Linked DNA regions of Homo sapiens. The protein of the gene in region 1 interacts with the protein of each later gene in a biochemical or structural test. Each region holds a gene or a part of one and is shown on either strand. Other genes may lie near its edges.

Region 1 (3,650 bases):
CATGGACATAAGCATGTACATCTTGGGGGACAGACATCTTCTGGGCCCTTAGGGGCTTGGCCCAGGGCCTGACACATGGAGCTACCAAGTTTCACCTGCCACCCACAAAGCTCAGGTCAGGCGGAGCAGGGGGAGTCAATACAGCCTTGAGGCCTCCTTGTGTCCCTGGAGCCCGAGGGAAGCTGCTGCACTGAACACACAGCCTGGAAGGGAAGCAAGGGCGCCATACGCTGTGCCAGGGTCCCTGCACAGCTGGCCTGCAACACTCACCCTCAAGTCCCCCTCAATAGAGCACTCTCCTGGGGATGAGCAGAAGCCCCCAGTCTAACTGTCACCTCTCTGTGCACCAGTGCTTTGAAGATCCCAATACAGTGGGTCTCACCAGGGACAACTGTATCCCCCAGGGGTCATTTGGCAATAAATATCTGGGGATATTGTTAGTTGTCACAACAGGACAGGTGCTACTGGCATCTAGCAGGTACAGGCCAGGGACTCTGCTCCACACCCTACAACGTACAAGAGAATTCTCCAGCCCCAGGTGCCGATGGCACTGAGGTGGGGGACCCTGTCCTGGAACAGGCAGGTCATGTTGGGTCTCCATGCTCCAGCAGGGCCTCTCCAATTCAGCCTCACCGTCGAGGAGACCAAGCAGCCCCCTGACAGCAAGCTGACTGCACTGACCCCTTCCTCCATGGAAGGAAAGGTGATTTGCCTTGACAGTAAGAGGAGACACATCGCAGGCATGGGTCTTGTCTCTGCCCACGGGGTGTCAGCCAGAGCCACTCTCTGAAGCCTACAGACTATGTGACTTGTCAGCACAGAGCCCCACATAACATCTCGGACCACAGTCCAGCAAAGAAGGCGGGGGAGTGGGCCCATGACAGCGATCTCTAGTAGTCACGGCACATGCCACCTCGCCCAGGAGCTGCCAGCCAGCCAGGACACGGAGAGCCAATTGAAGCTGCCAGCTCAGGGATGACTCCTGCAAGGAAGGGGTGTTGTCCTCCACGATGGGGTGGACACTTAGGCCTGAGTCCCCAGCAGGAACCAAAGGATGAAACAAAAAGGGCTACAGGCCCCACCACACCCAGTGAGCCATGTGGGGAGTCTATGCCGCCCCTCCCTGCAGCTCTGGGACCCGAGGCTTAGAAGGCCCCCGCAGCAGAAAGGCAAGAGTATATGGCGGGTGCCACCTGGCCCCGCCAGGCTAACCCAGGGCAATGCAGAGCAGTGGCAGGGAGAGGGGGTGAGGGGGAAGAATGGCAGGGGCTGGGGGTGCCATCACGCCCAGGGCGCGGGCAGGAGCGTGCAGCTGAGCCCTGAACCCATGACGACCTGGAGCTGAGCAGCAAGAGGGTGAGGGGCGCCCGGATGGCAGTCTAGGAAAGAACTCCCCAGTCCCAGCCACTGGGTGTGGGAAGTCAGCCTTCACCTCCGCTGAGGTGTGCGCCGGGATTGCCCCAGAGGAATGTTGCCTGTGGGGGCCACGCACCTTCCTTCCCAAGACAGACCACGCCCCTCTACCAGGGCATGCCCCGCCCATTTCCAGGACAGGCCCCACCCCCTCTCTGGGCAGACCACGCCTCTTCCCAGCGCCGACTCTGCCCTGTCCCAGGATGGACAGCACTTCATGAGTGCTCAGTGCAGGGACACAGAGGCCTGGACATGTTGGTCCAACCTGGAAGGTTCATTCCAGCTCCAGAGCTCCCTGTAAGATCCAGCAAGGCTGTCCTGGAGCCTACCCGGCAGCGTGCTTCTCCCTCTGCCCTCCCTGGCTTCTTCCCCTGTCCCTCCTTTCCCTTCCCAGTACTGGTCCTGAGAGCATGCTAAACTTCCTCCCCGCTAATCTGCATCTCAGAGTCTACTTCCTGAAACCAAGAGGGAGGGCAGCACATCCCCACCCCAGGCCCAGGAAACGCAGAGGTGCAGGTGGGGAGAAGACGCCTTCCCCTCAGCAGGGCTGGATCCCCTGACTCTTTCCTCACCTCGGAGCTCTTGATTCTCCTCCAGGCAGCGCTGGAGGGTCTCAGGAGCGCCCTGTTCTGAAGGCAGGTGCAGCATGGCTGGCTTCCCCAGAGGAGACTCTTCGCCCAGTACGTCCTGATCTGCTGCCGGGCCACCACTGGGCTGCACCATCTCACACAGTTGGCTCTTCCAGAGGTGCCTATTCATCCAACAGGGCAAGGGCTGAAAGAGAAAGGCAGCAGGGGAGTCACAGGAGACCCACATCCTTACCCAGCAGAAAAAGCCTATGAGTTCTGGGGCTACATTTTAAACAGAATGCTGATAATTCACCTAGTGTATCAGGATGCTAAAGTGGGTTTTCAGTCTAAGGGGTAGCAGATACTCCCATTCCAAAGGGAGGTGCTGGACCACCCATGTGGGACTTGAAAAGGCCTAGCTCCAGGCTGGAAATAGAAGAATTTCACCAGAGATGGGAGAGTCGGGACAAGACTGTTTGTGGAGGGAGATGTCAGTATGCTGGGAATCCTGATCCCCTACACACCTCCAAGCAGGAGAAGTGGAGGGTACCGGCCCCTCATCCAGTGTAGTGGGCTGAATGGTAGCCCCCCGAAAAGATATGCCCATGTTCTAACCCCTGAAACATATGTGATTCGGGAAAAGGGTCTTTGCAGATGTAGGATCTCAAGATGAGATCATTCTGGGTGACGTGGGTGGGCCCTAAATCCAACAACGTGTCTTTATGAGAGACAGAAGAGAGAAGCCAGAGGGAGACGCAAGGGGAGGAGGCCATGTCGGGACTGCCTCGGAGACTGGAGTGAGGCAGCCACAAGCCCAGGAATAAATGGGGCAGAAGCTTGGGAGAGGCAAGGGAGGATTGCCCTCTTAGAGCCTTTGAGGGTGTGTGCTTGCTAACCCTTTGGTTTTGGACTTCTAGTCTCCAGAACTGTGAGATTAAAATGTCTGGCCGGGCGCAGTGGCTCACACCTGTAATCCCAGCACTTTGGGAGGCCGAGGCGGGCCAATCATGAGGTCAGGAGATCGAGACCAGCCTGGCTAACACGGTGAAACCCTGCCTCTACTAAAAAAAAAAAAAAAAATTGCCGGTCACGGTGGCTCACGCCTGTAATCCCAGCACTTTGGGAGGCCGACACGGGTGGATCATGAGGTCAGGAGATTGAGACCATCCTGGCTAACACAGTGAAACCCTGTCTCTACTAAAAATACAAAAAATTAGCCAGGCATGGTAGCGGGCGCCTGTAGCCCCAGCTACCCAGGAGGCTGAGGCAGGAGAATGGCGTGAACCCGGGAGGCAGGAGAATGGCGTGAACCCGGGATCGCGCCACTGCACTCCAGCCTGGGCAACAGAGCGAGACTCCATCTCAAAAAAAAAAAATACAAAAAATTAGCAGAGTGTGGTGACACGCGCCTGTAGTCCCAGCTACTCGGGAGGCCGAAGCAAGAGAATCGCTTGAACCCAGGAGGCGGACGTTGCAGTGAGCTGAGATTGTGCCACTGCACTCCACCCTTGGCTTTCAGAACAGCCCCTTCTCCTGGTTTCCTCCCTATCTTGCTGGCTACTCCTGCCCAGGCACTCTCACTGGGTTCCCATCCTTCATGTTGGGCTGCCCCAGGGCTCTGTCCTAGGACATCTTCTTCTCTGTAACTTCATTCACTCCCACAGGAAT
Region 2 (3,650 bases), on another chromosome or scaffold:
GATTTCTAGGAAAGCTGTAAAGGTGTAGAGAGTTCCAGAATACCGCCACAACTTCTCCCGATGACAGCATGTTCTGTCACCACATCAGAGCTAAGGAATGAACACTGACACAGTATCTGTTAACTAAAATTCTTTTGGACTTCAATAGTTTTTCCACAAATGTCCTCTCTTCCAGGATCTGACACAAGATGCATTTAGGGTATTCCTTTTTATTATTTATTTATTTATTTATTTATTTGAGACGGAGTTTCGTTCTTGTTGCCCAGGCTGGAGTGCAGTGGCGTGATTTTGGCTCACTGCAACCTCCACCTCCTGGGTACAAGCGATTCTCCTGCTTTCAGCCTCCCAAGTAGCTGGGACTACAGGCGACCACCACCACATCCAGCTAATTTTGTATTTTTAGTAGAGAAGAGTTTTCTCCATGTTGGTCAGACTGGTCTCGAACTCCCGACCTCAGGTGATCCACCCGCCTTGGTCTCCCAATGTGCTAGGATTACAGGCGTGAGCCACTGCGCCCGGCCAGGGTATTCCTTTTTAAAAACAGGGTCTCGGGCTTGGTGTGATGTTTCACGCCTGTAATCCCAGCACTTTGGGAGGCCAAGGCAGGTGGATCACGAGGACAGGAAATTGAGACCATCCTGGCTAACACGGTGAAACCCCATCTCTACTAAAAACAAAAAATTAGGGCCGGGTGCAGTGGCTCACACCTGTAATCCCAGCACTTTGGGAGGCCAAGGCGGATGGACCACAAGGTCAGGAGATCGAGACCATCCTGGCTAACACGGTGAAACCCCGTCTCTACTACAAATACAAAAAAGTAGCCGGGCGTGGTGGTGGGCGCCTGTAGTTCCAGCTACTTAGGAGGCTGAGGCAGGAGAATGGCGTGAACCCAGGAGGTGGAGCTTGCAGTGAGCCAAGATCGCGCCCACTGCACTCCAGCCTGGGCGACAGAGTGAGACTCTGTCTCAAAAAAAAAAAAAAAAATTAGCCGGGTGTGGTGGCACACACCTGTAGTCCCAGCTACTCGGGAGGTTGAGGCAGGAGAATCACTAGAACTGGGGAGGCGGAGGTTGCAGTGAGCCGAGATCATGCCACTGTACTCCAGCCTGGGCGACAGAGTGAGACTCCGTCTCAAAAATAGTTAACTAATTAATTAATTAAAAAAAATATATATATATAGGGTCTCATCGTTGTCACCCAGGCTGGAGTGCAGTGGTACAATCGTAGCTCACTGCAAACCTCCAACTCCTGGGCTCAGAGATACTCCTGCCTCATCAGCCTCCCAAGAAGGTGAGACTACAGGCATATACCACCGTGCTCAGCTAAGTTTAAGTATATTTTGTAGAGACAGGGTCTCACTCTGTTGTCCAGGCTGGTCTTGAGCTCCTGGGCTCAAGTGATCCTCTTTGTCTTGGTCTCCCAAAGTACTGGGATTACAGGTGTGAGACACTGCACCCGGCCTGGGTACTGTATTTTTACCAGCTGCACTCAACACCCCAAGATGTGGTCACAGCAGTGATTTACCCAACGCTTTATTTATTTATTTATTTATTTTTGAGACGGAGTCTTGCTCTGTCTCCCAGGCTGGAATGCAATGATGCAATCTCGGCTCACTGCAACCTCTGCCTGCTGGGTTCAAGCGTTTTTCCTGCCTCAGCCTCCCGAGTAGCTGGGATTACAGGCGCCTGCCATACACCTCGCTACTTTTTTTGTATTTTTAGTAGAGACAGGGTTTCACCATGTTGGCCAGCCTGTTCTTGAACTCCTGACCTCAGGTGATCCTCCTGCCTTGGCCTCCCAAAGTGCTGGGATTACAGGCGTGAGCCACCGCGCCCCACCTACCCAACACTTCAGTAACAGATGTTGAGTCGTTTCCCGGATCACATCCTGGACAATGCTGCAGAACGTCTGTGACGCAGCAGTGAGAAGGGACAGGAAAGGCACTATGGCCAAGGCCCGGGCTCGGCCTGCTCACAGCTGTGTCCTGAGATGGAGGCCAGCTCACACTGGGTCTGGAGCTGCTCTGCAATGCCCTGTCCTCAGGAACTCCCCCCGGTGTGTGCACGCGCATGCGTGTTTGTGTGTGCACATGCACAGAAGGGCTGCTCACCGTCCTCCACGTAGTCGATGGTGGAGAGATGCTGGATCCGGCTGGACACCACACTGCCCTGCCTCCGCAGCTTGGGGCGCTGAACAGGAGCCAGTGAGGAGCTGGGGTCCGAGGGCGAGCCAGTCGCACTGTCCTGGGGGCCTGCGGGCTCCGCCGCCTGGCTCAGTTCGATGCAGTACTCAATGAGACTGCTCATCAGTTCGGCCTGGGGAGGAGGGGGCAGTGTGAGGCCTGGCCAGGGCCCCCTTCCATGCCTGTTGCTGAGCCTGAAATGAGCTCTGCTCTCTGGTTGGGGAAGCAGGGGAGGGGACACACATCACTCAGGAGGGAGGGAGCAGGGAGGCAGGGGAGGTGTCCCACTTGGGTGACTGTGAAGGTGAGTCCTGGTGGATGAGGAGGGGTCTCCAGATCTGGGAGTTCAGGTGGGAAAGAAAGAACATTCTGGTCAGAAGGCACAGCCCAGGAAGGCTGACTCCATGGGCAGAAGCAGGTGGGGAGGGAGGGGGTAGGGAGCCAGCTGCTGCAGAGAGGACGAAGAGTGGGGAAGCGGGGCGGGGAGGCGGGTGGTGCTGGCTGGGAGGAAAACCTGCAGCCAGGAGGAAGGGGCGCGATGTCACCAGGGCAGGGGCGGGCGGCTCCCTGCCAGCACGTTCTTCAAAAGTGACTCCTACTCAACAGGTGTGAAGCATGAGGCACACTGACAGAAAAGATGCAGCAGCCGGGTGCCAGCGGGCACAGCTGGGCACCAAGGACAGGGCCTTCAGGGGTTTGAGGGAGTCGCAGAGGGTGTTAAAAGGGTGGCACCCCTTAGGACACAGGTATTTCCTGAGTGCCTCCCACGTGCCAAGCACTGCTGCAGGCCTGGGATAAGATGAGGCCAAGTAGACAGGAATGGCCACCTGTGCTCCTGACTGGTGGGGCTGGGTCAGATGCTGGAGTGGCCCTGCGGAGACTGGCCTGGCTCCTGCCTCTCCACAGGGCAGCTACAATCCCTCTGGGCTGGGCAGGTGGGCACCGCTGCTCGGCCCAGAAGGAAGAGCAGAGGCCTGGTGGGCTCTCCACGCTCCCTGCCCTCAGCTCAGTCCACCCACACTCCTCTCCTCACCAAGTGGACTCCACCAGCCAAAGGGCAGTGGGCTGGCGAGGGGACGGCAGCCGGTGGGGACAGAGTCCTGAGTGCAACCATAACAGGGAAGCCTACTAAGTTTCCTAGAACAAAAACTCCTGCACAGCAACATGCCTCTGAGGCTCAGGAAGCCTGCCGTTCAAATGCAGCCAAAAGAGGAAGCTCTGCTGAACATCTGTCCAAGATAAAACTCAGCAAGCCAGCGTCAGAAAGGAACTTCCTCAACCTGATGAAGCGCATCTCTGAAGAACCCACAGCAAAATCCCACTTATTCAGTGAAAGACAATGTTCTCTCTCAGGCCAGGTGCGTCAGGGACGCCTGCGCACACCTATCCATCCTACACTGGGGGTCAGAAGCACTGTCAGGCAAGGCAAGCAAGAGGCACACAGATTGGAAAGTGAGACCCAGCTGTC

Evidence for each region. The genes of interacting proteins can lie anywhere in the genome.
Region 2: the proteins of IKBKG (region 1) and FRMD8 form a complex in vitro, tested with the Homo sapiens proteins (one study listed by BioGRID and IntAct).

What each region holds. Positions count from the first base shown.
Region 1 is NC_000023.11:154,550,525-154,554,174, reverse strand, and holds part of IKBKG (NF-kappa-B essential modulator), read right to left. Parts: intron 2,188-3,650; coding exon of another isoform or gene 2,173-2,187; coding exon 1,986-2,172; intron 1-1,985. UniProt on the Homo sapiens protein: Regulatory subunit of the IKK core complex which phosphorylates inhibitors of NF-kappa-B thus leading to the dissociation of the inhibitor/NF-kappa-B complex and ultimately the degradation of the inhibitor.
Region 2 is NC_000011.10:65,403,529-65,407,178, reverse strand, and holds part of FRMD8 (FERM domain-containing protein 8), read right to left. Parts: intron 2,316-3,650; coding exon 2,111-2,315; intron 1-2,110. UniProt on the Homo sapiens protein: Promotes the cell surface stability of iRhom1/RHBDF1 and iRhom2/RHBDF2 and prevents their degradation via the endolysosomal pathway. By acting on iRhoms, involved in ADAM17-mediated shedding of TNF, amphiregulin/AREG, HBEGF and TGFA from the cell surface.